Linked DNA regions of Homo sapiens: all the other regions are linked to region 2. Evidence: fine-mapped expression QTL. A gene starts in region 2. Each other region holds a variant in brackets. All regions are shown on one strand. Distances are between the middles of the regions.

Region 1 (4,065 bases), 200 kb before region 2:
TTGTAGGATCAGGTCATGTGTTGTTTTCCCAGAGCCACGCTAATAAGCTGCGCATTTTTAGAGCTATGGAAAGAACTCAAAAGCAATGAGTGAAAATGTAAGCCATCAGTCTCCCTGCCCTCTCCTGAGTATACAAACCCACTTGACTGCTGTCCAGTTTGAAGTAACTTCCAGCAAACCTGGTTGCTGTCTGCCCTCCCAACCCCCAGCACTGCCGAACATTTACACCCGACAGTGTGAATGCTGTGAAGAACACTTCTGCTTCCATCTGCCCGCTTTCTTCCCAAATGTTGGAAAGAAAGTACAAAAATAAGATTGCCAAGCAGAGGAATAAAAAGGACGTATATTCCTTACGTCCCAATTTAAAACAATATTAAATTGCTCTAGCTGTTCGATTCTAACACGTGTGGGAAGTGAATTCTATGTGAAAGAAGTGCCCAGCAGCAGTCATGCTCTAGCCTAAGAATGGGAGGGCTGGTCGGGAGGGCTGTGCCTGGAAACTTGTGCTCGTGTTAAAAGAACGTAGCTGTCCTTCTCTCTTTCCCTTTTAACTTTCATCTCCACATGGAGAAGGTGATCACTCAAAATATGCAGCCAGACCTGTCTCCAGTACTGTCTGAAATTCCATTAACAGGAGAGAAGCTGCAGCAGCCAGACCTGTCTCCAGGACTGTCTGAAATTCCATTAACAGGAGAGAAGCTGCAGCAGCCAGACCTGTCTCCAGGACTGTCTGAAATTCCATTAACAGGAGAGAAGCTGCAGCAGCCAGACCTGTCTCCAGGACTGTCTGAAACTCCATTAACAGGAGAGAAGCTGCAGCAGCCAGACCTGTCTCCAGGACTGTCTGAAACTCCATTAACAGGAGAGAAGCTGCAGCAGCCAGACCTGTCTCCAGGAATGTCTGAAACTCCATTAACAGGAGAGAAGCTGCAGCAGCCAGACCTGTCTCCAGGACTGTCTGAAACTCCATTAACAGGAGAGAAGCTGCAGCAGCCAGACCTGTCTCCAGGACTGTCTGAAACTCCATTAACAGGAGAGAAGCTGCAGCAGCCAGACCTGTCTCCAGGACTGTCTGAAACTCCATTAACAGGAGAGAAGCTGCAGCAGCCAGACCTGTCTCCAGGAATGTCTGAAACTCCATTAACAGGAGAGAAGCTGCAGCAGCCAGACCTGTCTCCAGGACTGTCTGAAACTCCATTAACAGGAGAGAAGCTGCAGCAGCCAGACCTGTCTCCAGGACTGTCTGAAACTCCATTAACAGGAGAGAAGCTGCAGCAGCCAGACCTGTCTCCAGGAATGTCTGAAACTCCATTAACAGGAGAGAAGCTGCAGCAGCCAGACCTGTCTCCAGGACTGTCTGAAACTCCATTAACAGGAGAGAAGCTGCAGCAGCCAGACCTGTCTCCAGGACTGTCTGAAACTCCATTAACAGGAGAGAAGCTGCAGCTTGGCTGTCAGGCAGGCTGATCCGGGCCTCCCGGGATGTGTGTGTGGGAGCCGGCGGGTCTAAGCTGGACTCCCGTAGGCCTGCGGTGGAGTGAAGCGGCCCAGCAGTGCGCACCTTCCCGGCCGGCCCCCCTCGCCCAGGCCCCCCGGAATTCGGCCAGCGGTGGCCGCCCCACGCCGCTCGCAGCTCACCTACCACGTGGCGCCCGCCGCGCTCCCCGCCAGCCCGCGCTGCCCCGCACAGCTCGCTCCAGCTCAGCCGGACCCGGCCTCGGGCGCCCTCGATCCTCACCCCGTGAGGAGAAGTTTCAACATTCGTGTAAACTTGGCCGGCCACGCTCGGATGCCATAGGCTGAGCTTTCACCGGCGAGGTCTCCC[T/C]CCGGCTGCAGTGACACCACCCCCGCCGCACTCAGCTGTTCCGCATTCCCTGTTTTCTTAATGAAAACAGGAAACCGGTATCTTCTGAAAATGTGTGTTCTTCACTCCCGCTTTGCCAGCTGATTTTTAAATAAAGCTAGCACTTTAAGCATCTCTACAGAGAGGCTCTGTTTTTCCTATACTAGTCACTGCTTCATGAAAGAGTCTGTGTCCTCCTGCCCAGCCCTCGGTCACCTGAGGAGGTGCAGAGGCACAATCAGCCCCACTGTTCTCTGCGGGTTCTCAGGATCCGGGCAGCACTCACTGGTTCCAGAGCACTGCCTGACTCTTCTCAGCCCTGGGCTTATGACACGTGGCAAGTAGTTATCCTTTATCATTAATTTCAACTGAGCCTTTGCCACTGATGAAAAGTTCTTCTTAAAAAATGAAAGAAAAACAAACCTTTTTCCAGATACGAAAGTAGTACATGCTTGTAAAACATTAAAAAAAAAAAAAAGCCACATACAGATAATTTAAAGAACGTAAAAAAAGGGCACTCAGATCCTACCATCAAGTGGCAAGCGTTAATATTTTGGTGTAACTCCTACTTTTTCTATACTTTTCCCACTTAAGGATTTTCAGTAGGAAAGATGAACTGACTCAACATCAGTATTTAAAACACAACAAAACTTATCACAGTTTTTACCAAAACCTAACTGGTCCATCTTTAGTTATTTCTTTAGTTCACCTTGTAGAAATCACAAAAAGCATGTATCACGTTGTATTACCCCCAAATGAACTTTGGACTTCTGGGAATCAGAAGAGGTTAGAATTTAACTAAGTTAGGCTTGCTTATTTCCTAATACTGCTCAAACCAGGCTACCCAAAGGACTTGTAATTCAAGTTTCATTCTCCAGCAAGTAAAAAAGTAAGATGTGTTTTCAAGGTGTCATTTTCACAAACAATTGTCCATGGTAAAAATTATTCTACAATAAAACTACCCGGTGTCATTATTTTTTTAATATCCTGTTTTCTAGTGTATGTTTACATACATCAACATAAATTAGGCACTTATGAGTCCCTGATTTATTTCCCAACTTTAACAAGACGAAAACACTTTTTTGTCTTTTGTACCAGACTATAAGCACCCAGAGAGCAAAAAACTTAATTAAAAAAAATTTTTTTTGGAGAGCACGCTGGCTCATGCCTGTAATCCCAGCACTTTGGGAGACCGAGGAGGGTGGATCACTTGAAGGTCAGGAGCTCGAGACCAACCTGGCCAACATGGTGAAACCCCATCTCCACTAAAAATATAAAAAATTACCCAAGCATAGTGGCGGGCACCTGTAATCCCAGCTACTTGGGAGGCTGAGGCAGGAGAATCGCTTGAACCTGGGAGGTGAAGGTTGCAGTGAGCCAAGATCACACACATTGCACTCCAGCCTGGGCAACAAGAGCAAAACTTCATCTCCGCCCCCACCCCCCCAAAAAAAATATACATTTTTTTTTTCATTGCTTCCTCTCCCAACCACACACCAATTATCAACATGCTGGGAAGAAAGGAGATGTCTGACAACGTTTACTGAAGGAATAAATAACTGAATATATAGTATAACATAATAAACTTGCTAGAGTGCAGTGGCGCCATCTTGGCTCACTGCAACCTCCACCTCCCTGGTTCAAGGGATTCTCCTGCCTCGTCCTCCCGAGGAGCTGGGATTACAGGCGTGTGCCACCACGCCCAGCTACTTTTTGTATTTTTAGTAGAGATGGGGTTTCACTATGTTGGCCAGGCTGGTCTCAAACTCCTGACCTCAGGTAATCTGCCTGCCTCGGCCTCCCAAAGTGCTGGGATTACAGCTGTGAGCCACTGTGCCTGGCCAACAGAATAAGATAATAAACTTTGAAAAACATCTTGATGCTCTGAAGACAGAAGTTGTTCGTTAAATATTAGTGTTAAGGACATTTCTTCCATGATATTGTTTCAGTTGTTATCTTTAGGTTGTGGAATTATAGATGATTTTTATTCTTTATATTTTATAATTTTTACAACACGTGGGTATTGCTCTTTTTTTTTTTTTTTTTTTTTTTTTGAGACAGGGTCCGACTCTGTTGCCCAGGCTGGAGTGACGTGGTGCGATCATGGCTCACTATAGTCTCTATCTCCTGGGCTCAAGTGATCCTCCCGCCTCAGCTTCCTGAGTAGCTGGGAACTATAGGTATGTAGCACCACGCCTGGCTAATTTTAATTTTTTAAAATT
Region 2 (4,065 bases):
ATGTATGCACACATTAACTCAGAACTATTTGTGAACTGATACTCATGAAATGAAACTAGTCTTGAATGTATCAATTCCAGTGGCCATTTGCCTGTGGTTTTTTGGTTTCTTTCTTTGGGGCCAGTTTGGATATTTTAAAAAATTACTTTTAAGCCTAGTCTTTTTTCCTTCTAACATTCCCTGCCGAGCGCGCACGCACACGCACACACACACACACACACACCCAGAACTCACTTTCGCTGAGGCAGAACCTCGACTAGAGTGATTTATGGACTAGGCAAGTCTAGAGCCCAGAAAGCATCCCTGTGCCCTAAGGGGATAAAATGTATTCCCAACTTGTGGGTCTCTACAGGAGGCAATTATTCCTCTACTGGCAGCTTCTCTTCCATCCTTATTCATTTTAACCTCCCCATAGGACAGCCAATACTTAATTTTTCTTCCATTGCTTCAGCAGCACCTTTCCCCAAACCTAGTAACAGAAAAAGGATCAAAGTTAATCACCTCTCAGTTTTCTCACTCAGTCTCTATCTTAGAAAAACTTCCTAAGTAGCTGCCTTAAAATGAGGGAGAAGGGCTGGGAGATGGAAGAATGACTGCTAATCGGTATAGGGGTTCTTTTTGGGGGCAACGAAATGGAATCAGATGGTAGTGATGATTTCATAACTTTACGGATATATTAAAAACCACTGAATTTTGACCTTAGAAGAGTAAATTTATATGTTTATTACACTTCAATTTTTTTTAAATAAAACGTGCTCAACATTTTAGTAGAGAAAGTTGGATGAAAGGAGAAACTGGCAGATGAACAGCTACTTAGCTGTTAACGCCACCTAAAAATGAACTTGAATAAACTCAGGAATTCAATATAAGCAAACAGACCCTCATTTCCATTCAGCTCCAGAGGTGGGGGGCAATGACGGTGAGGAAAGGAACTGCACGATTACACATCTGGATGATTAAGCTTCCTTATTAGCCTCGGGTATCAGGGTCTAATAGAATCCACTATTTAATAAGATGGGCTGACCCTCCGCAGAGGCCACGTGCGGAAAGCGAGCGCTGGCGGACGCCATAAATTGTTAACGCCAACTCGCCCAAGGCCTTCACTAGGTCACGCTCGTGCAGCACGGCTCGTGCTGACCCGCAAGAGCCACCAAGAACAGTTGCCTCTGAAAGTTCCACGGGACCCGGGTGAAGGAGATGAACGGTCAAGGAGCCGTGGCTGCCGCGAGCGCCACTGCGTGTTGCCCAAAGCGGCACAGAAAACGCAACATTCGGGGACCAGCCCGCTTCAGGGCCCCTACACCTTCCCTCGACCTGGAACCGCGGGACCTCGGAAACCCACGCTGCCCGCGCCGGGTTGGGCCGCCCCAGAGGCCGCAGCGCCCACGCCCCTCCCCCGCCTCCCCGCCCTCCAGCCCCGGCCGAAGCCACCTCGGAGTTGGCGGAGGGCGACCCGAGGCCACCTGCCCCTCTGGGGCCGAGGATAAAGGGGTCTTGACCGCCACTCCCTCCCGCGAAGGGCAACATCCAACTCCACGGAGAGCCGCTTCAGAGAGGGTCCCCCGTTCCGCCCCGGGCTAGGGAAGGGCCCAGAGGCATCCGAGGGACAGAGCGCCGGGCCGGGGTAGCCAGGCGCCCGCACCCTCCCGCCGGCCGGCCCGGCCCGAACTTTCTCGCTGCTCCGTGCCCGGCGCGCCTCTCCCTCCTCCAGACCGGCCGAGCGCCGCCGCTGCAGAGCGCGCCAAACTCCGACGGCCGCGGGGCCGACGCCACCTCTCGGACCCCCCCCCAGGACCGCCCCGAGGCCGCCGGGTTCACCCGCACGAGCGGGAGCCCGCGGGGGCTGCCCTCCGCCACCGCCACGGCCGCCGCGCAACCCCGGCGCGCGCCAAGTCGGCTCCGCGCGGGGCCAGCCCGAGGCAGGGGTAGGGGCCTCGCGCTCCGGGACAACCTCGCCGCGGCACGGGGCGCGGCACGGCCCCGCCGCGTCACTCACCTTCGGCCGCTCCTCCCAACCTGCCGGCCGCTCGCTCGCTCCGCCGCGGACCCGGAGCTCGGGGAAGGGCGGGGCGCAGGGGGCGGAGTCGGCCCCGGCTGGCAAGCGCCAGAATTAAAGCCCGAACCGCACGGCCGCCGCCGGGGCGGGGAAGCCGGGGCGGACCAGCAAGCCTCTCACCCGCGGTGGGCGACAGCTGTGGCTGCGCCCCGGAGCGGCGCGTGAGAAGAACGGCGCGGGCCGGCGAAGCCCCGGCTGCTCCCTCCGCCCAGAGGACGCCCGGCTCCCCGCGGGGGCGCTCTTTGTACCGCGGAGCCGGCCGCGGGCGGCCCTCAGTGCGCCTGCGCGCCGCTGCAACTCCACCAGGCCCGCGGGGCACCTTCGTGCACCTTCGTCGCCGCGCCTGGCCCGCGGGCCTCGCCGCGGCGAGAACTAAGCAGAAGAACTTCCTCCACCGCGGTTCGCTCCTTCTGCCAACCCGTATTTACCACGTCCATCCTCGCACACACACCCGCAAGGGGAGAAGAAATCCAGCCCCCGTGAGACGGTGCGGTGCTCCCATCTCCGGCTGGGGCGGGGGTTCTGGCAACGAGGCTGGCCTGCTCGACGTCCTCCCCCAGCGCCTCTGTACCTCCTCTCCCTCCCCGGGTGAGGGGGACCGGAGCGTGCAGAGCTCTGTTTCCTGCAGGTGCCTCGTCAGCACGGTCGCCCCGGCGGCCAGAAACCTCCCGCCTCCAAGGGCACCTCCCTTGTGACCTCCGTGCATTCGCCCTGGCTCGGCTGCAGGACAGAGTCCTCGGCGGAAAGGGGAGGATGCGTGTTCAGAAGGTTGCAGGTCTCTGGGGACTCCACAGAAGACCCAACGCCTGCCTCGGGGGCTCAGGATTGAACTGGCTTCCTAGTTCAGTCCCAAATACTCGATTTGGAGCAATCCAGTAGGTCCATGAGAAATTAGTAGGGATTGAGAAGCTGTGACTTCAGTCTTTTTCAAATTGAAGGTGGCTTGAACAAACAGAAGAGGAGCTTGGGAACTGAAGGGACGACTTTATAAAAACCAGGTATTACTCAAAAAACAATGTTAGCTCTGCAGTCAACTGATTTTCTTAAGGGAGAGAGTCCTCCCCTCACCCCCAAGCTCTCTAGCACCGCACACATCCAGCAGGGCGTTACACACGCTCAGTCTTTTTTGTGAGTGTGCAAGTGAAGAGCCATCAAACTTCACAAGGCGACATGCTTGCCTCTGGGGAGAAGACGCTGCTTTTCCACAGTTCACAGCGAAGCACACCTGCAAATTCCTGAACTTGATGGCTCCTGACTGTTTAGGGAATAGGCAAAGGGCAGCCGGAAGATATGTGAAGGCAGGAAAGCTCATTTTGAATCTCAGCGCCTTTGCCAGCTCACTGGGTGGCAGTAAGCAAACTCTTTCCTCCTCCTGGGCCTTGCTTTTTCGTCTGTAGAGTAGGGCATTTGGATGCAGTAGATATTTTCTAAAATCCCCCACCACCACCACCCCGCCCCAAATGTCTACTCTTCTATGAAAAGGAGAATTGTTTGCATGGTGATAAGGGATGAGATATCAGAGGCAGGAAGACTCCTGCATTTTAAAAGTGCTCGTCGGCCAGGCGCAGTGGCTCAGGCCTATAATCCTCACACTTTGGGAGGCCGAGACAGGTAGATCAGTTGACCCCAGGAGTTCTGGGCAATACAGTGAAATTCTGTTTTCACCAAAAAAAAAAAAAAAAAAAAAAAAAAATCAGCTGGGCGCGATGGCGCGCGCCTGTAGTCCCAGCTACTCTGGAGGCTAAGGTAGGAGGATCGCCTGAGCCCTGGAGGTCGAGGCGGCAGTGAGCAGAGATTGAGCCACTGCATTCTAGTCCAGGCTACAGAGTGTGACCCTGTCTCAAAAATAAATAAATAAATAGTGCCCTCGACCGGGTGCACTGGCTCACACCTATAATCCCAGCACTTTGTGAGGCCGAGATGGGTGGATCACTTGAGGCCAGGAGTTCAACACCGGCCTGGCCAACATGGTGAAACCCCATGTCTACTAAAAAATACAAAAAAATTCG
Region 3 (4,065 bases), 130 kb before region 2:
TGAATTGGCTTTGTGTGTGCAATTGGGCAATTACAAATTAATTAACCCCAGAAGTTCATTTCTGAACTTATGAAAAAGATAAACCTTTCTTACCATGTAAGGCAATTTGTTTCAAGGTTTTCTTGGATTTTGACTTGCATCTATTTATGGCTCAGTGCAGTGGCTCATGCCTATAATCCCAGCACTGTGGGAGGCTGAGGCCAGAGGATCACTTGAAGCTAGGAGTTGGGCCCAGCCTGGGCAACATAAGGAGACCCTGTCCCTACTAAAAATAAAAACTTAGCCAGGTGTGGTGGCATGTGCTTGTAATCTCAGCTACTTGGGAGGCTAAGGCAGGAACACCCTTTGAGTCTAGGAGTTCAGGGCTGCAATGAGCTATGAACATGCCACTGCACACTAGCCTGGGTGACAAAGCGAGACCCTGTCTCAAACATTAATAAATAAAACATATTTAAACAGTAAGCCTGGAAAGATGAGTCAGAATGAATTATTGAGAGCTCATATGCCAGGTTCAGGAATCTGGATACAATGCTATGGACAGACAGACTACATTAAGAGTCTTGGGAGAAGGGGTAGCACTGTTGGAAGTAACTTGAATGGCAAGACAAAAAAAGGTGTTTTTTTTGTTTTGTTTTGTTTTTGAGACGGAGTCTCGCTCTGTCACCCAGGCTGGAGTGCAGGGGCGCGATCACGGCTCACTGCAACCTCCGCCTCCCGGGTTCACGCCATTCTCCTGCCTCAGCCTCCCAAGTAGCTGGGACTACAGGCGCCCGCCACCACGCCCGGCTAATTTTTTTTGTATTTTTAGTAGAGATGCGATTTCACCGTGTTAGCCGGGATGGTCTCGATCTCCTGACCTTCTGATCTGCCCGCCTCGGCTCTCAAAGTGCTGGGATTGCAGGCGTGAGCCACTGCGCCCGGTCAAGGGTTGGGTTCTTATCAATAGTCCATAAAAGGTTTCATTAAATATCCTTCTTATGGGGCACTAAAAGTGAGTGTAGAAAAAGTCACGATTGGACAGAAAATGGTAGGAAACCTCATAAGATGTGGAGGGAGGGGGCCATGTTACCTCTGCCGTTTTGCTTTGCTAAAACACTCACTCTCAGGCTGGGAGCAGTGGCTCACGCCTGTAATCCCAGCACTTTGGGAGGCTGAGGCAGGTGGATCACCTGAGGTCAGGAGTTCCAGACCAGCCTGGCAAACATGGCGAAACCCCGTGTCTACTAAGACTACAAAAAAAAATTAGCCGGGTGCGGTGGCGCATGCCTGTAAACCCAGCTACTCGAATGGCAGAGGCAGGAGAATCACCTGAACCCAGGAGGTGTAGGCTGCAGTGAGCCGAGATCTCACCACTGCACTACAGCCTGGGCAACAGAGAGAGACTCCATCTCAAAGAAAAACAAAACAAAACAAAACACCACTCTCATTATCTCATGAGGATCAAAGCAGATAATGTGATAATCAATTACAAGATAAATCCTCAGTGTGACTCCACGGAATGAAAATGTCCTCCCCTGCCTCTCACCTTGGCAGTCCAAGGTGCATTTGAAAGAAGTTGTAAAAAATTACAAGCTGCTTTATTTTTCATAAAACCTCCATCTTCACCAGTTACAGTATATGTAGTAATTATCTTTTCCATGCTCTCAATAATTATCTTCTTAACCAGTTTTTAAAATATTTTCCATTCAACTTTCATTTTAAGATTAACAATACAATTACTAAACCACTGATTCCTTTAACCTCTTCTCTTAGAGCCCTAAGGTAAAGCTCAATTATTGAGACAAATAATTACATGCTGTAGATGTATCATCCTAGATATCAAAATCTAGGGGCATGCAATTTTAGTAATATTTTTGGCCAAGAAAATCTGGAAAAGCTGGCTGCCAATATCTGATGTTAAAGGAAAATATGAATTCTGACTTCAAAAGAAGTTCACTGCCACTTTCTAACGTTTGACCATACCTAGTCAAACTTAAATTGAAGGTCAAATGTTATTTCCTTTTCATTGCCTTTATTAAGTGACTGTTAAAGGCTAGACACAATGCTACGGAGACAGGGATTAATGACACAGTCTTTGTACTCATGCAATACAGAATGATGGAAGAGAAGTTATCATGGCATACTGTAATTTAACAGTATGTTAAATACTTATCCTATTGGTGTGAGCTGAGAGCTATAGAGCCACAGCGGTAGATAACCCAAACTGGTATGTGAAGAAGGGTTATCTGAGGACACCACCCCTGAAATGAGGCTTAAAGATGACTAAATTGGCCCCAAAGGGGAGGAAGTACAGTCTTCAAAGAGCACCCAGAGCAGATGCAAAGGGAAGAAGAGACCACAGAATGGGGTGTGTGAGGAGTTAAATATGCAAGGGATGGATGACTACAGGTTTTGCATGCCAAGCTAAACAGTTGGACTTTATTTTGGAAGCAGCAGGAGTCACTGAAAGACACCTGAGCTCAGAAGCCACCATATTGGGTTAGTTTTCAGTAA[C/T]TACTGCTCTGGCTGAGATGAGGAAAACGACTTGCCTTGCCTAGAGGAGGAGGAATGTGGAAGAAGGAGATCCTAAGAGGGTGTTTCAGTGCACAGGTATAGTGGGGAATTAGGAGGGAGGTCTGGGCTGGAAGTACAGATAAGCCTCAGTGCGTGGGATGGCTGAGCTCAAGGGTATAGTTGATGGTCCTCAAGGAGATGAAAGGAGAAGTCTTAAATCTTGGATGGAATGCCAAGGAGACTATGAAATTTTCCTGGTTAAGGCTGCCCAGGGGGAGCCCCACAAATCCTGGGGTGCTAATGAGGCCGCACAGCATTTCTTTTTCCGTGTGGGCTGCATAACTTGCATAGATAATTCTGCTTGCTGGGCATAGGCTGTACTATATATTTAATCTATTTTCAACTCAACTTATAAACTCATGCCCTTTGTCTCAAAGGCAAAGGAGTAAGGAAATATTTGTGGTACAATGCAAAACGTATTAACGCTGAACAGAAACAACAATAACAGCAGCAAAAGACACATATCACTCCTAGAACTGCTTATACCAAGATACATATTTCTACCAACCAGTCATACCCTCACTTGGCCTTTTCCTTAAACAATCAACAACCAGATATTGACTAAGCACTTTTTGTTTTGTTTTGTTTTTTGAGACAGAGTCTTGCTCTGTCACCCAGGCTAGGGTGTGGCGGCATGATCTCGGCTCATTACAACCTCTACATCCCGGGTTCAAGTGATTCTCGTGCCTCAGCCTCCCAAGGAGCTCCTCTACATCCCGGGTTCAAGTGATTCTCGTGCCTCAGCCTCCCAAGGAGCTGGGATTACAGGCGCCTGCCACCACACCTGGCTAAATTTTTGTATTTTTAGTAGACACAGGGTTTTACCATGTTGGCCAGGCTGGTCTCAAACTCCTGACCTCAGGTGATCTGACCGCCTTGGCCTCCCAAAGTGCTGGGATTACAGGCATGAGCCACCGCGCCCAGCCCTAAGCTTTCTGCAGCCTCTCTCACCTTCCACCTGAAACGAAGCTACTCTTCAGGTTATTACTTTTTATCCTTCTGAGTCTCGCTCTGTCGCCCAGGCTGCAGTGCAGTGGCGGGATCTCAGCTCACTGCAAGCTCCGCCTCCCGGGTTTACGCCATTCTCCCGCCTCAGCCTCCCGAGTAGCTGGGACTACAGGCGCCCGCCACCATGCCTGGCTAATTTTTTTGAACTTTTAGTAGAGATGGGGTTTCACCATGTTAGCCAGGATGGTCTCCATCTCTTAACCTCATGATCCGCCTCAGCCTCCAAAGTGCTGGGATTACAGGCGTGAGCCACCGTGCCTGCCCCCCAACTCGTTTTTTTTCTTTTTTTTAAGACAGAGTCTCGCTCTGTTGCCCAGGCTGGAATGCAGTGGTGCAACCTCAGCTCACTGCAGCCTCGAACTCCCAGCCTCAAGCAGTCCTCCCACCTATGCCTCCTGAGTAGCTGGGACTATAGGCACATGCCACCACGTCTGCTAATTTTTGTATTTTCTAGTGGAGACAGCGTTTTGCCATGTTGGCCAGGGTGGTCTTGAACTCCTGGCC
Region 4 (4,065 bases), 250 kb before region 2:
TCAATCTCAGCAAGTGTACTTTCTGAGTGTCTTGTCTCTTGGAGGTGAATTTACAGATGAGAGAAGATATAAACAAGTTGCCTCCTTTCCCAGTGAAACACTGATGTCTTCTCCCTCTTCTAACTCATCTCAACTTGGTCTCTGAACTTAGCGCTGTGGACATACCATATGTGTCCTTAGGCAAGAGGATCTTCAATTGGTTCCTGGGTTCATTGGACCCCTGTGGCTTTCCAACACAGATGACTCAGTCTCTTGCATCTCAGTGTGAACACCTAGGATGACCGTTTTTCTGCTCTGGAAAGGAAAAACACTGTGCACTTCTGCCTGATGGCAGAATCAGAACCCAGGATGGAATGCAGAGGCAGCAGCTGAGAGGGCAGCAGTGCAGCACACTCTCCTCCATGCCACCTGGGTTTCCAGAGGAGACCATGATTTTTTTTATTATTTTTTGAGACAAAGTTTTGCTCTTGTTGTCCAGGCTGGAGTGCAACGGCACTATCTCGGCTCATTGTAACCTCCGCCTCCCGGGTTCAAGCGATTCTCCTGCCTCAGCCTCCTGAGTAGCTGGGATTACAGGTGCCCACCACCATGCCCAGCTAATTTTTGTATTTTTATTAGAGACAGGATTTCACTATGTCGGCCAGGCTAGTCTCGAACTCCTGACCTCAGGCGATCCACCCACCTCAGCCTCCCAAAGTACTGGGATTACAGGCATGAGCCACCGCACCCGGCCAACCATGATTTTTTAAAATGTGCATTCATAAGGGAGTGAGCTGACACAGAAACTCATGGGATTAGCATAAAGAAACATTACTTTCTAAGGGAAATGTATGAGTCATTTTTTTTTTTTAAGACTGCTGTGAGTCAAGTTCTATGGCCAAATTCTGGATGAATACAGGATTTATAAACACTTGATATATTGTACAAGCTGTAGAAAGACTTCCTATTGGGCAATGGTATCTTTGCAGAATTTGTTTTTTATACTGGGAAGCAAAAGTTCCACAGGGAACAAGTTAACTCATAAGGTTTAGTCACTGGAAACTGCAAAAGACGAAAGCCTACAAAGATGAAAGAACAGACACTTTAGAGCTCCCTGATGGACAGGAATCCTCCTTATCAGAGCCCTTCCTCTAGAGCAGCATTTCTCAAAGTGGGGTTTCTGGACCAGAAGCATCAGCACCACCTGGGAACTTGTTAGAAATGCCAATTCTTGAGCCTCTTTCCAGACCTACCGAATTGGAAAGTCGAGGTTGAGGCCCAGCAGTGTGTTTTCACAAACCCTCCTGGGGATTCCGATGCACACCAAAGTTTGAGAGCTACACGTTTCTAAGAGACAATCTAGGCAGACTGTACACAGGAAATGGCTTTCCTTTCACAAAAATATGTAGTCCCTAGTGCCCTAAGGCATCCACTGTAGATAATAGGTTACATTCTCTCTCTGCAACTAGGATGGTACTGGTATGTACCATCCCTGGGGATTATTAAGAAAATAGTCATCCAAATAGTTGTCATTGTTCTATGATTAAGTCCCCAGTGACAGTTTTGTTGCTGTCCGCCAATCAACTAAGCCATTTGGTTACACAGCAGCACTTCACTTCGAGGAACCAGTTTTTGTATGGATAAAGAAAATCTAAGTTACGCTGTGACAGCAAGTCACTCCCTAGCTTCTCTGGCTTAGCATAATAAAGGACTATTTCTTGTTCCTAATACACCTGCAACACAGCTTGGCAAGGAAACTCTATTCCACGTAGTCACTCAGGGTCGACACTAATGGGATGTCTGTGTCAACACTTGCTTCCGTGATCATCACTGTGACAAGGGGAGTACAAGATACGGTAAACTGCACTGGCTTTTGAGGCTTCCATCTGGAACTGACACATAACCTTTTCTGTTTCATTGGAGAAGTCACATGGCCAAGTGTAACTTCAAAAGTGTGTGGGTAGTACATCCGATCCTGTTGTGCCCAGAAAAAGAACTGGAGTATCTGAGAACAGCCCTCGTGACTGCTATTCAAGGTTACGAGTGGGCCACAATGGCCATCATGCAAAACTATGTGGTCACATTCAAGAAA[T/C]AGCAGGGCTAAGAGTTTCCAGTTTTTACCTTCTTTCACTATCTCTTTGATTATATTGACTCTCAAATCTGCACCTTCCTTCCCAAGGTTTTTTTTGATCAAACTTTTTCATTTTCTTAAACTTTAAAAAAAATTGAAGTTAATATACATACAGGAAAGCACACACGTGTGTCTACAGCCTGATGAATGGTCACAAAGTGAGCATAACAGTGCAACTACCCCCCAGGCAAGAAATTGACCATTACCAGGAGCCCACCAGCCCCATTTGGGCTCCTTCCAGCTCCCTCATGGCAACACTCCTGACTTCTAACACCATCAGTTATTTTTTTACACTCATTCATTCAACTAGTATTTCTCAGCTAGGCACCGGAACTTCTCAGTCCTGGCAGATGGTGTTACAAACCGAAGCATGAGATTTCATCCTAATAAGCTTCCTGTTGGAAGACTGGATTTTTCTGGGGGTGGGGGTGACATATTTTAGGCAGGATTGGGGGTGGGTGAGCTCTCTGAACTCTCAGGGATTTTACCTAATAAATATTTTCCTTATTACCTGTTTAAGCACATCCAGTACTTCCTAAAAGAGCAGATGGGACCATAGCAAGAATCTCTTTGCTGCCCGACACATGAGAAGCGGCCTGCCCAGCTGGCACTTGCTCTCCTACAACCAGCCTCAACAAGGCATCGAGCTGCCTGCACCAGTGACAGCAAAGCAGCACCTGCCTGTCTGCAGCTCAGGGATTTTCTCTCGCCCTCAGTCGTACAGCCTTAGCCTTCCAGGTGGTTTCTAGGGCTGGGTAACTAGTTCCTTCTGGGTTGGGGAATGGGGAACAAGTGTAAAAGTTATTTTGGCTCAAATACAAGATTGACATTTGGTTTTAGAAATAGGAATATTTGTTATGCAGCTTCCATTTTATGAAAATGAGGGATATGTTTTCCATCCTCTTACCTATTTAATCAACAAAGGTCTTAATGGAGATGCAGTGGGCAGCTGGATTCTTAAAATGCCAGCTCCTTCCCAACATCCTCTAAATCAGACATTTCTGTCTAAGCATGCACCTGCAAAAATGATATGTTGTTTTCCAGCTTCACTGCAAGATCCTTGCCAGAATTCAGGATAGGTATCTCAAGGATATCATTACAAGTTCCAAATAATGCCATCTTTCATGCTTGAAAAGCCATGACTGTCTGGTCCCTGCAGGGAGTAGCTGGTGCCTTCAGTGGGGAGGGGTTCGAGCGTGAGCAGCTCAGGAACGTTGTGGTCTACGGTTCAGCCACATCCTTTGTGGTAAGAAACTGCAACAAAATGTACTTTATATTTTTATAATCAGCTGGCTTTTAAATTACAGCCATGCTGAATAAGAGCAGAGAAAACGTATGATTAGTAATTTCCTTATGCAGAAAGTAGAACAGTTTCTGGCTAAGGCCTAGGGCTTTAAAAAAAAGGTGCTTTTAGTAAAAAAAAGAAAATGGAAAATTCTTTATTCCAAAGCCAAAGCAATGGTTCATGGCCTCCTTCTGAGCAGTAATAGTCCAACTCCACGAGGAAGTGGAAATGGAAAAGATTAGCTTGGGAAAATATTCTAAGGGCTGTCTGCCTGCCCAGCCACTGTCACCTATATACTGAGCCACCTTCTCTGGTCCTTACAAGCACAGAAAAATGGATCTGTGGCAGTCATGGTTCCTGGACTTCTAGAAATGACTATATTCCAGGAGATGCAGAAATGCTACTGAACATGGATGTGCAGCACCACAGAAAACCTATGTGGGATCCTGATCACCAGTGGAAGCCCGGCTCCTTAGAGAGCTAAGGTAAAGCCAATGTTTGTTTTGATGTAGTTCCCCCACCTTGCCTAACATGTGTGGGGAAGAACAGATGCATCATGTCTCATACTTTGGGAGCAACAGCTTCTTAGTGTGGACCAAAGGCTATGTTCAGAAACACCTGGGATGCTTGTTAAGGATGGGGATTCTCAGACCAGGCTGGAAATTTGCTT
Region 5 (4,065 bases), 240 kb before region 2:
CTGCCAGCATGGCTCTCACAGCCCCCCAAATTGTTTTCCTCTGAAAGGTTCAAATCTTGACTCTGAAACAGACCTCATAATGAAACACCTATGGGAAAAGTCTATTCTCTGGCCTCTTTCCTGAGCTCAATAATGTTTAATTTTTAAAAGCGGGGGAGGGAGGGAGGGAAAGAAGAAGTCTCTGATATTTCTCCAGTGCACTTGGCTCTCATAGATGGCCTTGGCCAAAACTCACCACCAGCGATTGTGCCAGAACACCTGGTTTGAATTCTGGCTGCCATGCTGCTTCATTTAATGAGATGGTCCCAACTTACTTTACTATTTAAAAAGAATTTGAGGCCAGATGCAGTGGCTCATGCTTTTAATCTCAGCACTTTAGGAGGCCGAGGTGGGCTGATCATGAGGTCAGGAGATCGAGACCATTCTGGCCAACACGATGAAACCCTGTCTCTACTAAAAATACAAAAAATTAGCCGGGCGTGGTGGCGGGCGCCTGTAGTCCCAGCTACTTGGGAGGTTGAGGCAGGAGAATGGCGTGAACCCAGGAAGTGGAGCTTGCAGTGAGCCAAGATCATGCTACTGCACTCCAGCCTGGGCAACAGAGTGAGACTCCATTCTCAAAAAAAAAAAAAAAAAAAAAGTGTCCGGCTTCATCTCTCCTTTCTTGTCACTACACGTATCACCTAGTCACCCAGCAGTTGTACTCAGAGTCAAGGACTAGTGCTTCTGCACCTGAGAAGAAGCATCTCCGGCTACCCATCGGAAGAGCGCTTTGTCTAAGGAGGCCTCAAACTTCAGCCTCCCGACTTGCAATCTGAGTCAGGAGCCAAGCTGTGCAAGTGGACAAGCGCCCTCGGAAGATGCTGTCTCCCTGTCGGAGCCAACTGGCGCACTCACCCTCCCTGCTCAGCTCAATCCATCAGCGTGTGCTGCCACTGCCGTAAGTCAATCGGCTCGGGGCGGACAGCTATCAGAGATGAAACAGGGACAAGGAAAAGAGCTTAATGGAATTTTATTTTGAAAATATGGCAAGAGTCTAAGGCACTTCAAACATTTAAATACATAGAGGACCAAAGTAAATGTGACACGGTAAAAAGGAATCCATAAATACAAAGAGAACACTGTGTTTCTCTAGAGGCAAATACAGAGCCGATTCCTCTAACACAATCCAACCTTTAGCATTGGAGTTGTGCAATTAATACAAATGATGATGTTACGTGTAGTTCTTCATGGCTTTAGTATGGAATACAAAAGCTGAAAATACTGTGTCAAGTTCATATAGATACCCTTTTTATAAAAAGTCATATATTACATCTACCTAGTTAAGACCAAATGAGAATATTCTTTTGTAAGTTTTATACTTTGTCTGGCCCAGGCCCAAGTTACCAATGATCAAAGTCATCTCGACTTCCTTATTTTAAAATAAGACAAAAGAAAAATCCAAAACTATGCTGGAATGAGATTTTGGAAGAACTTTCTAATGGTTCCACATTTAGTACATATAAATATTTGTGGAAAAATCTTAAAACGTCTCAGTGAGAACCAGACACCACTTTGTGGGAGTGAACAGAAGGTGCCCCTTCAGATCAGAATTCCCTGTGACTGTACAAAACGGAGCAGAGACTCAACAGCAACAGAGACTGGGTTAAAGTGTGCCCTACACAGAAGACGGCCAGAAAGGAGGTGTGTGTGCCCAGGCTAGCAGTCTCTGCACTGTGAAAGCTTCAGCCTTTACCCCTGGGCTTGATGCTTCTGTTTGCTGGTGAGCTCAGGCACAATACGTATACATTCAGTATCTGTCACCCCAACAGGAACAATTAGCAGCTTAATAGTGGCATGTAAATAAAGGGCTATTTGCATACAATCAATCAAATGAACCTCGGTGGGTGGGGCCAGGAGACGTCTTCCTTCCAAGCCTAGGGGTGCCCTAGAGACCAGGAAAGGAAAAAAACTGGGGGTTAATAAGTGACCTCAGGCAGATGTGTACCCTGTGACATAGGATCTTGGCCCACCACAGGCAACAAGCAGCTGTGAGCCCGAGCCAGGAGAGCTCTGGCTGAG[A/T]ACAGGGAACAGGTGTCCACAGCTCCAAGGCCAGCTGGGCTCAGCAGTGCTATGTCCGGCTGTCCTGGGAAGTCACCTTCCCACTCAGAGTGAACTGTGGACTACAGGCTGCCTGCCATCTGCTTCAGGAACAATGCCAGAACCATGGCGAAATATCCCCATGGGCTCAGGGGCTGCTATCTGGATAATTCTGCACAGAATCAAAACCTCTATGGGAAGCTGTGAGCATATGTCTTGCAAGGACAAGCAAGGTCCAGCCTCTGCTAAAACATTAGTTCTCCTGCTTTTTGCGGGGTGGAGGCGGAAAGGATGAACTCTTAAGCTCCAGACTAAAACTTCCATTTTCTGAATCAACATAAAATCTGTCTCCCGTCAATTCCTGGAGGAAGGGGGTCCACCAGTCTGGTGGATTTCAGCCTATTTACAAATGCCAAATGCACAACACTGACCGGAGACTGGGCTTTTGCAAAGTTGACATGGGCATACAGAAGAACAGCGATGTCCTTGTGTCCTGCTTCCAGGGCGATTGAGAGCGCAGTGCTGCCATCCTTAAGATAAGATGGAAAGAACAAGCCATGTTGGGTTTCTCAAACCTCCAGACAACCGAAAGGTAACAGAACAAAACACCCTCCAATAATTGGCAAGGTTCCCCAAATATCCCTACTCGTTCGGTCTTCTGGGAAACTTTTTTGGGACCTCTAAGGGTGAAGGCCTGAGGATGTGAAGATGAATGAGGCAAGCCTCCACCCTCCAGAGGTCCCAGTTAAGAGGATTATCTTACTCAACCATTCTGCCCACCAGGAGGGGGAAGCAGAAGATGGGGATAGAAAGTTTTTTTTTCTTCTAATTAATTATGAATGACCAGGCAAGCAGCAGTAGTGTGTGTTTAGAGACTCTGCAATTTGCCAAAGATCTTTTACCTTTCCTCTTAGAGAGGGCACTGTGATCCTAAAACCCTAAACCACCTCGGTTTAAGGCTACAAGTAACATCTGTGTGTAAGCACGCAATCCCAGTGGGTTGCACAGATCCAACTTCTGGAAATAAGAGGGGAAACACTACATATGGGTGAAAAAAGCTTCACTTAACTGCTTGATTTCCATTAAATTTCAGGGATTTAAATGGATATAAAGGAGTATCAAGGGAAAGAACAACACAACTTGTCTTCTGTCTAGTGTGTTTTTTGAGACAGGGTTTGTCTCCCAGGCTGCAGTGCAGTGGCACGATCACAGATCACGGTAGCCTTGACCTCCAGGGCTCAAGTGATTCTCCTGCCTCAACCACCACGGTATCTGAGACTACAGGTGCATACCACCACACCTAGATAATTTTTTTTTTGTAGAGATGGGAGTCTCACTATGTTGCCCAGGCTGGTCTTGAACTCCTGGGCTCGAGCGATCCTCCTGTCTCAGCCTCCCAAGGTGCTGGAATTACAGGAGTGACCCACTGTGCCCAGCCTATCTAGTCTTGAAATACGGATTTCCCTCTGGTCAGCAGCAGCAGCAGGACACAGTTCTCTTTGGTTTAATCTTATGATCCTTCCCCTCAAAAGCTTTGAAAGATAATAGAAGTAAAATCAAACAAAAACCACAGCACAGCTAACAAACTCTTCTGGAAGAAAGAAGTCGGTCAGAAGCTCTCCCTCCCACAGAGGGGAAGAAGGGAATCTGCTACAGCTGCAGCTTCCATGTGCTCCTGTGGAGATGGCTGAGTGTGAAGCTAGTCAGTCCCTCATACCAGTGAAAAACTCCGCTGGTTTTTCTCCCTACTGGCTTGGGCCCAGAAGAATCTGACCTACAAAGGATATTTTCCTAACTTTTTGGTGTTTTGAGCTAAAGAAGCTCTGATCCAAACCTGTGATCCACAGAGATAAACTTTCAAAAACGGAACCAAGCCAACCCGACCTCTGTGACCTTTACACCATCTCACTGCCTACATGCCAGTTCCTACCTTCTACCTATCACCACTCCTGTCCTTTGGCCTAGAGACACGCAAAAGTACCCCCT
Region 6 (4,065 bases), 170 kb before region 2:
GGTGTGAGCCACTGCCCATAATTCTGATTTTTCTTACTTCATTTACAGTAAGTCCCTGAACTTCTCTGTGACATTACATAGGGATGATGATGACAGTAAAATAATAGCTTAATCTCATTAGATTATTGTGAGGATTAAGTATGAAAATGCAGGCAAAGCATTTTAGGCACCATGGTGCATTTAAGTGTTCAATGAATGTTAGATATTATCATTCATGTCTTTATTATTGATAGCAGTCCCACAGCAGAATCTATAAAAGTCTCAAGAAGCTGGGCAGTAAAAAAGGTCAAAAATGGAATGGACAGGGAAAGATCAGTCATCCCAGAACAAATAACTGAGTTTATCTGGGTTTGGGTTATAGTGTTCTACCCAGAGGAGATAATTGCAGCTGAGACCGCTAGAATAAAAAGTCACATTCATGGGCTGGGAATGCCCACTTTAGAGGTCACTTCCTGCTGTTGTCTTCAAAAGTGCTTTACGGCTTACATAGCTCCTCTAAGTATGTTTCTGGTGCGCTCACTGGTCCTAAACCGGCAGGTGGATATACTTACCGATGGTTTACATGTGGAGAAATAGCCCTGCCCAATATTTCACGGTTAGTGCTGGAACTAGGACTCAAATTCAGGTTTCCTGGCTCCAATTCTACACTTGCTCCAGTATATAATGTTGTCATTTGAAGGTGTTCAGAGCCAGCAGACGTAGGAGTCTGGACTCAGACGCTCAGAAAAAATTTCTGCATAGACAATTACTATTCTTACTCATTCAGCTATTTGGCACATAACTCAAAAAAGAAATGAACACTTGGCACGCCATTTTGGGCAGGTTGTCCCTATGGTGATGTGTCTCTTAGGAGGATCTTCTCTGCATTTCGTGTACAGATTTCTCCCGAATCTCACAGAAGCAATATTGGAACAGAAAGTGAAACTATGTAAGTCTCTAATATAACCAAAATAAGAATTCAAATACAGGTCTTTATGATTCATAATATGGCTTGTTGCATATTCCTAAGAGAATCATTTTACAGAATATATACTTCTCTTCCCTCCTTTCTCTTTGTTTAGCAACATCAAACAAAAGCTGCTTGGGAGTGGCTACTAGGAATTGGTTTTAAGCATCCAAACTAATTTCCTCTCTCCTCATTCAATCCCTCAGAAAGAAGTGCAAGAGGAGTATACATTACATTTGCATCAGCATTCAGTATTTACATTTGTCTTTCAACACTTCAACAGAATTGACTTAGGTAATAATTTACTCAATTGATTTCAGTGCAAGACTCTAAGATAAAAGCAAATTTTCTGAGAGTAAAACAAAACAAACCCAAACTTCAATGGACAGAAAATTGCTTTGAAATCCTAGTTATCTAGGCAACTTGCTATTATCCGTTCATTATTAAAGAGAATAAAAAATTAGTTTGAGAAAAGACATACATTTAACACACAAACTCCAGAGCACAGGGTTACCTGAGGCACTGCCGTTAACCTTTGTGGTGTGAGCCATGCTGGCTTGAGTCCAATG[A/G]GAGATCCAGAAAGGAGTGAGGAGTCATGCAAATTTTATGCATCAAGTTCTCAAAGGCATTCAACCTGAAACAATAAAGAGAGCCCCATCAAAATGGATCATTTAAAAAATGTACAAACTAAATCTTAGACTTCTGTTTACAAAGATGACTGCTAACAGAGAAAGGAAATCGGAATGGGGGGAGAAAGACTATAGATCCAGGAGGTGACTGCATTGGACCTGGCAGTATGGAGATAACACCCACGGATGTACCAGTGGCTACATACTGAAAGGGGGTCTCTACACATAATAATCTATGGGAAACAAAATTGGTTCTCTAGAAATGAGACTATTTTAGGAAAGTGGTCACCAAATACAAATGACTTCCTAATGTGTAGCACTCTACGAAATATTTTTGGTTTTTAAGCATATCTTCCTTTCCAAATTCTGGTTCAAAAAGTTCATTTATTCAACTGCAATTTCAAAGCAATTATTGCACCAAATGTTTACATTTTTAAAAAGATTAACTTCATGGAAATTCTTTTGAGATATCCGAAGTCTTTCTACCAACGCCTCTTTCTTACATGCAACCACCTTTCTAAAGCACAAATCTGATCCAGTCAGTCCTCCTCCTCTTAAACAAAAATTCATTATCTCCCACTGTGCCGTTGGATAAACTTCAAATTATTAGAGGCATTCGGACCAGAGCAACTCCATCTTGAGTAGGGGCTAGATAAAATAAGGCTGAGACCTTTATTTTAAGTCTAAATTCCCAGGAGGTTAGGCATTCTTAGTCACAGGATGAGACAGGTCAGCACAAGATACAGGTCACAAAGACCTTGCTGATAAAACAGGTTGTGGTAAAGAAGCCGTCCAAAACCCACCAAAACCAAGATGGAGATGAAAGTGATCTCTGGTCATTCTCACTGCTCATTATATGCTAATTATAATGCATTAGCATGCTAAAAAACATTCCCACCAGCAGCAGGACAGTTTACAAATGCCATGGCAATGTCAGGAAGTTATCCTATATGGTCTAAAAAGGGGAGGACCCCTCACTTCCAGGAACTACCCACCCCTTTCCTGCAAAACACAAGAATAATCCACCTCTTGTTTAGCATCAAGAAGTAACTGTGTGTATAATCAGTTGAGCAGCCTACGCTCCTGCTCTGCCTATGGAGTAGCCATTCTTTATTCCTTTATTTTCTTAATAAACTTGCTTTTACTTTACTCTATGGATTCACCTCTAATTCCTTCTTGTGAGAGATCCAAGATCTTGGGGTCTGGATTAAGACCCCTTTCCAGTAACAAAATGATAGAGCATGGCACATAGTTCTGAAACACCGGGGTCCACATTGGGCAATATATTCATTTTGCATTGATATTTCTATTTAAAAGTTACCTGAGATTACCATAATAAGACTTATATTTCAATCACAAAATTTAAAACAAAAAAAGAAAAAAAAATACAAAAAAGTATACTGTTTCCCCTTTGGTTTTTGCAAATACCTTTCGAAAAATACTAGCAAACAGTAAACAACAGTACATATAGAAATCCCATTTCCATTGTGCCCAAACTCTGACTCTAGACCCATGAAATCAGAAGAAGTTGGGAGAAATAAATTCTAAGTTGAGAATTAAAGTGTCAATTCAGAAACCCACATGACCTCTTAACAACAGAATGCCAAAATAATATCTGTATACACTAATTCTAATGCAGCCATTGAAATCATATAAGTTTTTAATAAGGCAAAATATTCAAAGTATGTTGGTTAAAAGAAAAACAAAACTGTATACTATCCTAAACCTAATTTTATTAAAAATATGTATGTGTATATGTACACATTTAAACGATGAGAAGTAATTGTACCAAAATGTTCACTGTGGTGGTTGCCTCTGGGTGATGAAATCATGGATTTTAGCTCTTTTCTTACTTTTGTAATAATAATCATTATTAAAAATAAATATTTAGGCCAGGTGCGGTGGCTCACACCTGTAATCCCAGCACTGTGGGAGGCTGACGCAGGCAGATCACCTGAGGTCAGGAGTTTGAGACCAGCCTGGCCAACATGGCAAAACCTCTTCTCTACTAAAAAATACAAAAATTAGCCAAGGCTGGTGGTGCACGCCTGTAATCCCAGCTACTCGGGAGGCTGAGGCACCAGAACCACTTGAACCTGGGAGACGGAGATTGCAGTGAGCTGAGATTGCACCACTGCACCCCAGCCTGGGCGACAGAACGAGACTGTCTCAAAAAACAAAACTAAAAATTTAGACCCCTTCTGTCTTATTTGCTTTAAAACCCTCAGGGAAAAGAAAAGGTATTTTTTTAAATGCTATTCAAAAAAGGAAACTATCAGGCTACAATCATGAAGATTATAAGGGGTCAGAAATATAAGTAAATAAAAAGGAAAGAAAAGGAAATGGCTGATTGCTTTGATCACACAGGGTGAGAATTTCTTGCCACTTAGTGAAATTTCCCTCATTGTTTAAATGGGTTTGCACCACAGTTCAAAGCTAACTACTGTGAAAGCAACTCAGTGTAAATTCAAAAGGACCCTTTTTTCTCTC
Region 7 (4,065 bases), 23 kb before region 2:
CACATGAGGGGCTTATTTCCCTTAGGTATAATGTCATACAACTTGGTAACAGCCCAATGGCAAAGGATATGAACAGTTCGCAGAAACACAAATACAAACAGCTCTTATAAATTTATGAAAATATGCTCATTCTCCTAAGAGAAATGCAAATTAAAAACAGATGAGATACCATTTTTTACTTAACAGATTGGTAAAGATTAAGAAATGTCATAACATACTGTACTGGCAACGATATAAAGAAACAAGTGCTTTCATGCCTTGCCTGTGAGAGCATAAGTTAGCACAGCTTCCATGAAAGGCAGCTGGAGTAACATCTGTGAGAAGTACAAATGCACATATGCATTCACCTGGTAATTCCATATTCATCACACATGGCACTATCACGTGTGAGCATAATACACGTACAAAGTTACCCCTTGCAGCATTGTTGGATGTAGCAAATCAATAGGAAACTGATTAAACAAAATATGGAGTTTAAAATCATACTATGCTGCTCTTTAAAATGATTTTAAAAAGAAACCCATACCTCCACATGGAGCAGTCTGAAGACACATGGTTCTATGAAAAAAAGATGCATAACAATATATGAAGTCTATTATCATCTGTGATTTCACAGGGAGAGAGAATATGATCATATACACACATTTTAAAAATATGTATGAGGCCGGGCGCGGTGGCTCACACCTGTAATCCCAGCACTTTGGAAGGCGAAGGCAAGTGGATCACGAGGTCGAGAGATCAACACCATCCTGGCCAACATGGTGAAAGCCCATCTCTACTGAAAATACAAAAATTAGCTGGGCATGGTGGCGCCATTGCACTCCAGCCTGGCGACAGAGCAAGACTCCGTCTCAAAAAAAAAAAAAGTGTATATATGTGTGTGTGTGTCTGTGTGTGTGTGTATATGTGTGTGTGTGTGTGTGTGTATATATATATATATTAACAGAGTTATCTCTGGAAGGAGGAATACCAGTTGCCTGTAAAGAGAGAATATGGTAGCTAGTACAGGAAGTGGGTGGCTTTTCACTATACACCTTTTACATCTTTTAAATCTGAGCCATGGGCCAGGCACAGTGGCTCACACCTGTAACCCCAGCACTCTGGGAGGCCAAGGCAGGAGGATCACTTGAGTCCAGGAGTTCAAGACCAGCCTGGGAAACATAGTGAGACCCTATCTCTACAACAAATAATAAATTAGCTGGACGTGGTGGTATGCACCTGTAGTCCCAGCTACTCGGGAGGCTGAGGTGGGATGATTGCTTAAGCCCAGGAGGTCAAGGCTGCAGTGAGCAGTGATCATAAGACTGCATTCCAGCCTGGCTTACAAATAAGATCCTGCCTCAAAGAAAAAAAAATTGAGACATATTAGCTTGAAAATGGCATGGTGGCTCATGCCTGTAATCCCAGCACTTTGGGAGGCCGAGGCGGCTGGATCACCTGAGGTCAGGAGTTTGAGACCAGCCTGGCCAACATGGTGAAACCAGGTCTCTACTAAAAATACAAAAATTAGCTGGGCATGGTGGCGGGCACCTGTAACGCAGCTACTTGAGAGGCTGAGACTGGAGAATTGCTTCAACCTTCAACCCAGAAGGCAGAGACTGCAGTGAGCCGAGATCAAGCCACTGCACTCCAGCCTGGGTGACAGAGTGAGACTCCGTCTCAAAAAAAAAAAAAAAAAAAAAAAAAAAAAAGTTATTTTTTAATTCAGTAAAATGGTTGTAAGGTAAAGCTGAGGAAATCCACCAGAAAATGGAATAAAAAGACCAAGACATAGAAAATAGGAGAGAAAAAGGTAAGATAATCAGAGGATTGCCCAGAAGGACCACCAACATTAGAAAATGCAAATTCAATGAAAAGAGGGAAAGTTATCTAAATATAATTTTTTAAATGTTCCAATAATTGAAAAACATTAAGTTCCCAGTTTGAGAAGGCCATTGTGTGCCCAGAAAAATGAATGCAAAAAGACCAATCAGAATACTTGGACAAAAAGAAAAATCCTAAAAAGTTTTTTTTTTTTTTTTCCCGAGACGGAGTCTCGCTCTGTTGCCCAGGCTCGATGGAGTGCAGTGGCACGATCTCGGCTCACTGCAAGCTCCACCTCCCGGGTTCATGCCATTCTCCCGCCTCAGCCTCCCGAGTAGCTGGGACTATACAGGCGCCCGCCACCACGCCTGGCTAA[T/C]TTTTTGTATTTTTAGTACAGACAGGGTTTCACCATGTTGGCCAGGATGGTCTCAATCTCCTGACCTTGTGATCAGGAGTGCTGTGATTACAGGCATGAGCCATCGCGCCCCGCCCCTAAAAACTTTTAAAGAGAAGTGAGGGGAAACTCTATTTTTTTTTTTTTAATAAAAAGCTGGAACTTAAGGGAACAATCTCTTTAAAGTTCTGAGGGAAAAGGACTTTCAAACTAGAACTGTACACCTGGCCAAACTAGTAAGTGTGAAGGTAAAAGAAAAAAAAAAAAAAGACAATTTAGATATGCCAAATCTCAAGGAGACTATCTCCCTTGTAACCTTGTGCAGAAGCTGTTGGCCAATGCTCTCTACCAAGACCAGAGAGCAGCCGAGTGTAGTGGCTTACACCTGTAATTCCAGCACTCTGCGAGGCAGAGGTGGGCAGATCACCTGAGGTCAGGAGTTCAAGACTAGCCTGGCCAACATAGTGAAACCCCATCTCTACCAAAAATACATAATTAGCTGGGTGTGTTGGCGCCTGCCTGTAATCCCAGCTACTTGAGGGGCTGAGGAAGGAGAATCACTTCAAACTGGGTGGCGTAGGCTGCCGCGAGCCAAGATCGCGCCACTGCACTCCAGCCAGGGCGACAAGAGTGAAACTCCATTTCAAAAACAAACAAACAAACAAACAAAAAACACACAAAAACCAGAGACCAAAAGAAACCACAAAGGAGGAGGATACCATAGTATCCAGGGAAGAGAAACAGAGAGAAGGTACAGAACGGCCTGGAAACTTCAGAAGGGACGCCTTCAGGAAGAAAGGATGAATGGACAGCTACCCTGAGGTGTGCAAACACACAGAAAGGAAGGTTAGGCTTCAGTTTGGGAATGAGTCAGTGACAGGTACTTAAAACAAGCACTCAAAACAATGATTAACTCTGGGTGGGCAAAAGCTGTATGAGGAAGGAAATATTTAAATTACATGTCTTGGCTGTGAATTATTTCCAGTCTAAATAATACTATAAACATTATATATTAATCAAACAAAAATCATATTAATATTACAGCAGGAGAAGAGACGTGTTGGGGGAAGTCATAAGAGTTATATCTTCATCTTCCACAGTGTGAGGAAAGTAAATATCCAAAATTGAATTTAAAAAAATCAAGAAATGACATGATAAGCATGCTTTCTCAAGATACAGTCATTTTCACAGATCTAAAGCAGTCAAATATCAGCATTTTCTTATGGTTCAACATCAGAAGATAGATGAGAGATTCCTCTGAGGAGAGGGAATCAGGTGGGAAAAGCAGGGCAGAAAGCTACTGTTTTCATGGACGGTTTTGTAGAACAACTTGACTTTTTGAAGTATGAGAAGACACGTACATAAAACATTGCTAAATTTCATTTAAATAATTTTTTGTAATTTTTATTTTTTTGTACAGAAAGGGTCTTGCTAGGTTGCCCAGACTGGTCTTGAATTCATGGCCTCAAGCAATCCTCCAGCCTCGGCCTCCCAAAGTGTTGGGATTACAGGCACGAGCCACCACACCCAGCCTTAAAATCTGTCCTAGAGCCAATATTCAAGGGTTTTTCCCATATGAGAACCAATGATGGTCTTATGTGTGCTGCTCCCATAATAAAAGCCATATTTCAAATCACATCTAAGTCTAAGACTTCTAGGTCTACTGCTGCTGGTGCTGCCCACCAGCTCCTACCTGTGGGCTGGGGAACAGTCATTGCTCTGCCGTCCCGTTCTCTGGGAGAAATGCCTGAGAGACAGCACCAGGATCACACTCCTTGAAGACTTCAGAATTTTTCAGGTTTCTCATTAGCTCCAAAATTTTTATAATTGTAAAGTGACTAAGATCACAAAATAAAATCAGAATTCCT

Alleles and levels. Alleles are on the strand shown, and positions count from the first base shown. SD is a standard deviation of normalised expression in the study named. Not every link is listed here.
For the expression in skeletal muscle of the gene that starts at base 2,056 in region 2, allele C in region 1 goes with a higher level than allele T (large effect, 1.4 SD a copy in FUSION).

Evidence for each region. PIP is the estimated chance that this variant, and not a neighbour inherited with it, causes the effect.
Region 1: its variant is the best candidate, but not a certain one, in a credible set for the expression of KANK1 in skeletal muscle (FUSION, PIP 0.82).
Region 3: its variant is the best candidate, but not a certain one, in a credible set for the expression of KANK1 in cerebellum (GTEx, PIP 0.65).
Region 4: its variant is the best candidate, but not a certain one, in a credible set for the expression of KANK1 in lymphoblastoid cells (GTEx, PIP 0.73).
Region 5: its variant is the best candidate, but not a certain one, in a credible set for the expression of KANK1 in esophagus mucosa (GTEx, PIP 0.84).
Region 6: its variant is the best candidate, but not a certain one, in a credible set for the expression of KANK1 in sun-exposed skin (GTEx, PIP 0.57).
Region 7: its variant is the best candidate, but not a certain one, in a credible set for the expression of KANK1 in whole blood (TOPMed, PIP 0.86).

What each region holds. Positions count from the first base shown.
Region 1 is chr9:704,825-708,889 of GRCh38, reverse strand. The region is part of intron 2 of KANK1 (KN motif and ankyrin repeat domains 1); the gene reads right to left. It overlaps LOC107987042 (phosphatidylinositol 4,5-bisphosphate 5-phosphatase A-like), which reads left to right. Exons shown (of 1, transcript XM_017015393.3): 1 at 1-1,982. The coding sequence starts at 565. The coding sequence ends at 1,467. Among named protein-coding and RNA genes, the nearest start is that of KANK1-AS1, 21 kb to the right of the region's middle. The variant T/C (reference allele first, on the strand shown) is at 1,826.
Region 2 is chr9:502,686-506,750 of GRCh38, reverse strand. KANK1 (KN motif and ankyrin repeat domains 1) reads right to left here and starts at 2,056. Exons shown (of 12, transcript NM_015158.5): 1 at 1,997-2,056. It overlaps LOC105375947 (translation initiation factor IF-2-like), which reads left to right and starts at 1,198. Exons shown (of 4, transcript XM_047424276.1): 1 at 1,198-1,491; 2 at 1,582-1,812; 3 at 1,930-3,054. The coding sequence starts at 1,198. The coding sequence ends at 2,751. RefSeq lists a silencer at 1,931-2,420.
Region 3 is chr9:630,034-634,098 of GRCh38, reverse strand. The region is part of intron 1 of KANK1 (KN motif and ankyrin repeat domains 1); the gene reads right to left. Among named protein-coding and RNA genes, the nearest start is that of KANK1-AS1, 53 kb to the left of the region's middle. The variant C/T (reference allele first, on the strand shown) is at 2,494.
Region 4 is chr9:749,151-753,215 of GRCh38, reverse strand. It overlaps LOC124902109 (a long non-coding RNA gene), which reads left to right. Exons shown (of 4, transcript XR_007061394.1): 2 at 2,631-2,865; 3 at 3,720-3,880. Among named protein-coding and RNA genes, the nearest start is that of KANK1-AS1, 66 kb to the right of the region's middle. The variant T/C (reference allele first, on the strand shown) is at 2,072.
Region 5 is chr9:743,035-747,099 of GRCh38, reverse strand. KANK1 (KN motif and ankyrin repeat domains 1) reads right to left here. Exons shown (of 12, transcript NM_015158.5): 11 at 2,511-2,609; 12 at 997-1,927. The coding sequence ends at 1,865. Among named protein-coding and RNA genes, the nearest start is that of KANK1-AS1, 60 kb to the right of the region's middle. The variant A/T (reference allele first, on the strand shown) is at 2,062.
Region 6 is chr9:674,405-678,469 of GRCh38, reverse strand. It overlaps KANK1 (KN motif and ankyrin repeat domains 1), which reads right to left. Exons shown (of 12, transcript NM_015158.5): 2 at 1,461-1,580. The coding sequence starts at 1,497. All of the region lies in intron 2 of KANK1-AS1 (KANK1 antisense RNA 1), which reads left to right. Among named protein-coding and RNA genes, the nearest start is that of KANK1-AS1, 9.1 kb to the left of the region's middle. RefSeq lists an enhancer at 3,839-4,065. The variant A/G (reference allele first, on the strand shown) is at 1,516.
Region 7 is chr9:526,096-530,160 of GRCh38, reverse strand. The region is part of intron 1 of KANK1 (KN motif and ankyrin repeat domains 1); the gene reads right to left. Among named protein-coding and RNA genes, the nearest start is that of KANK1, 23 kb to the right of the region's middle. The variant T/C (reference allele first, on the strand shown) is at 2,180.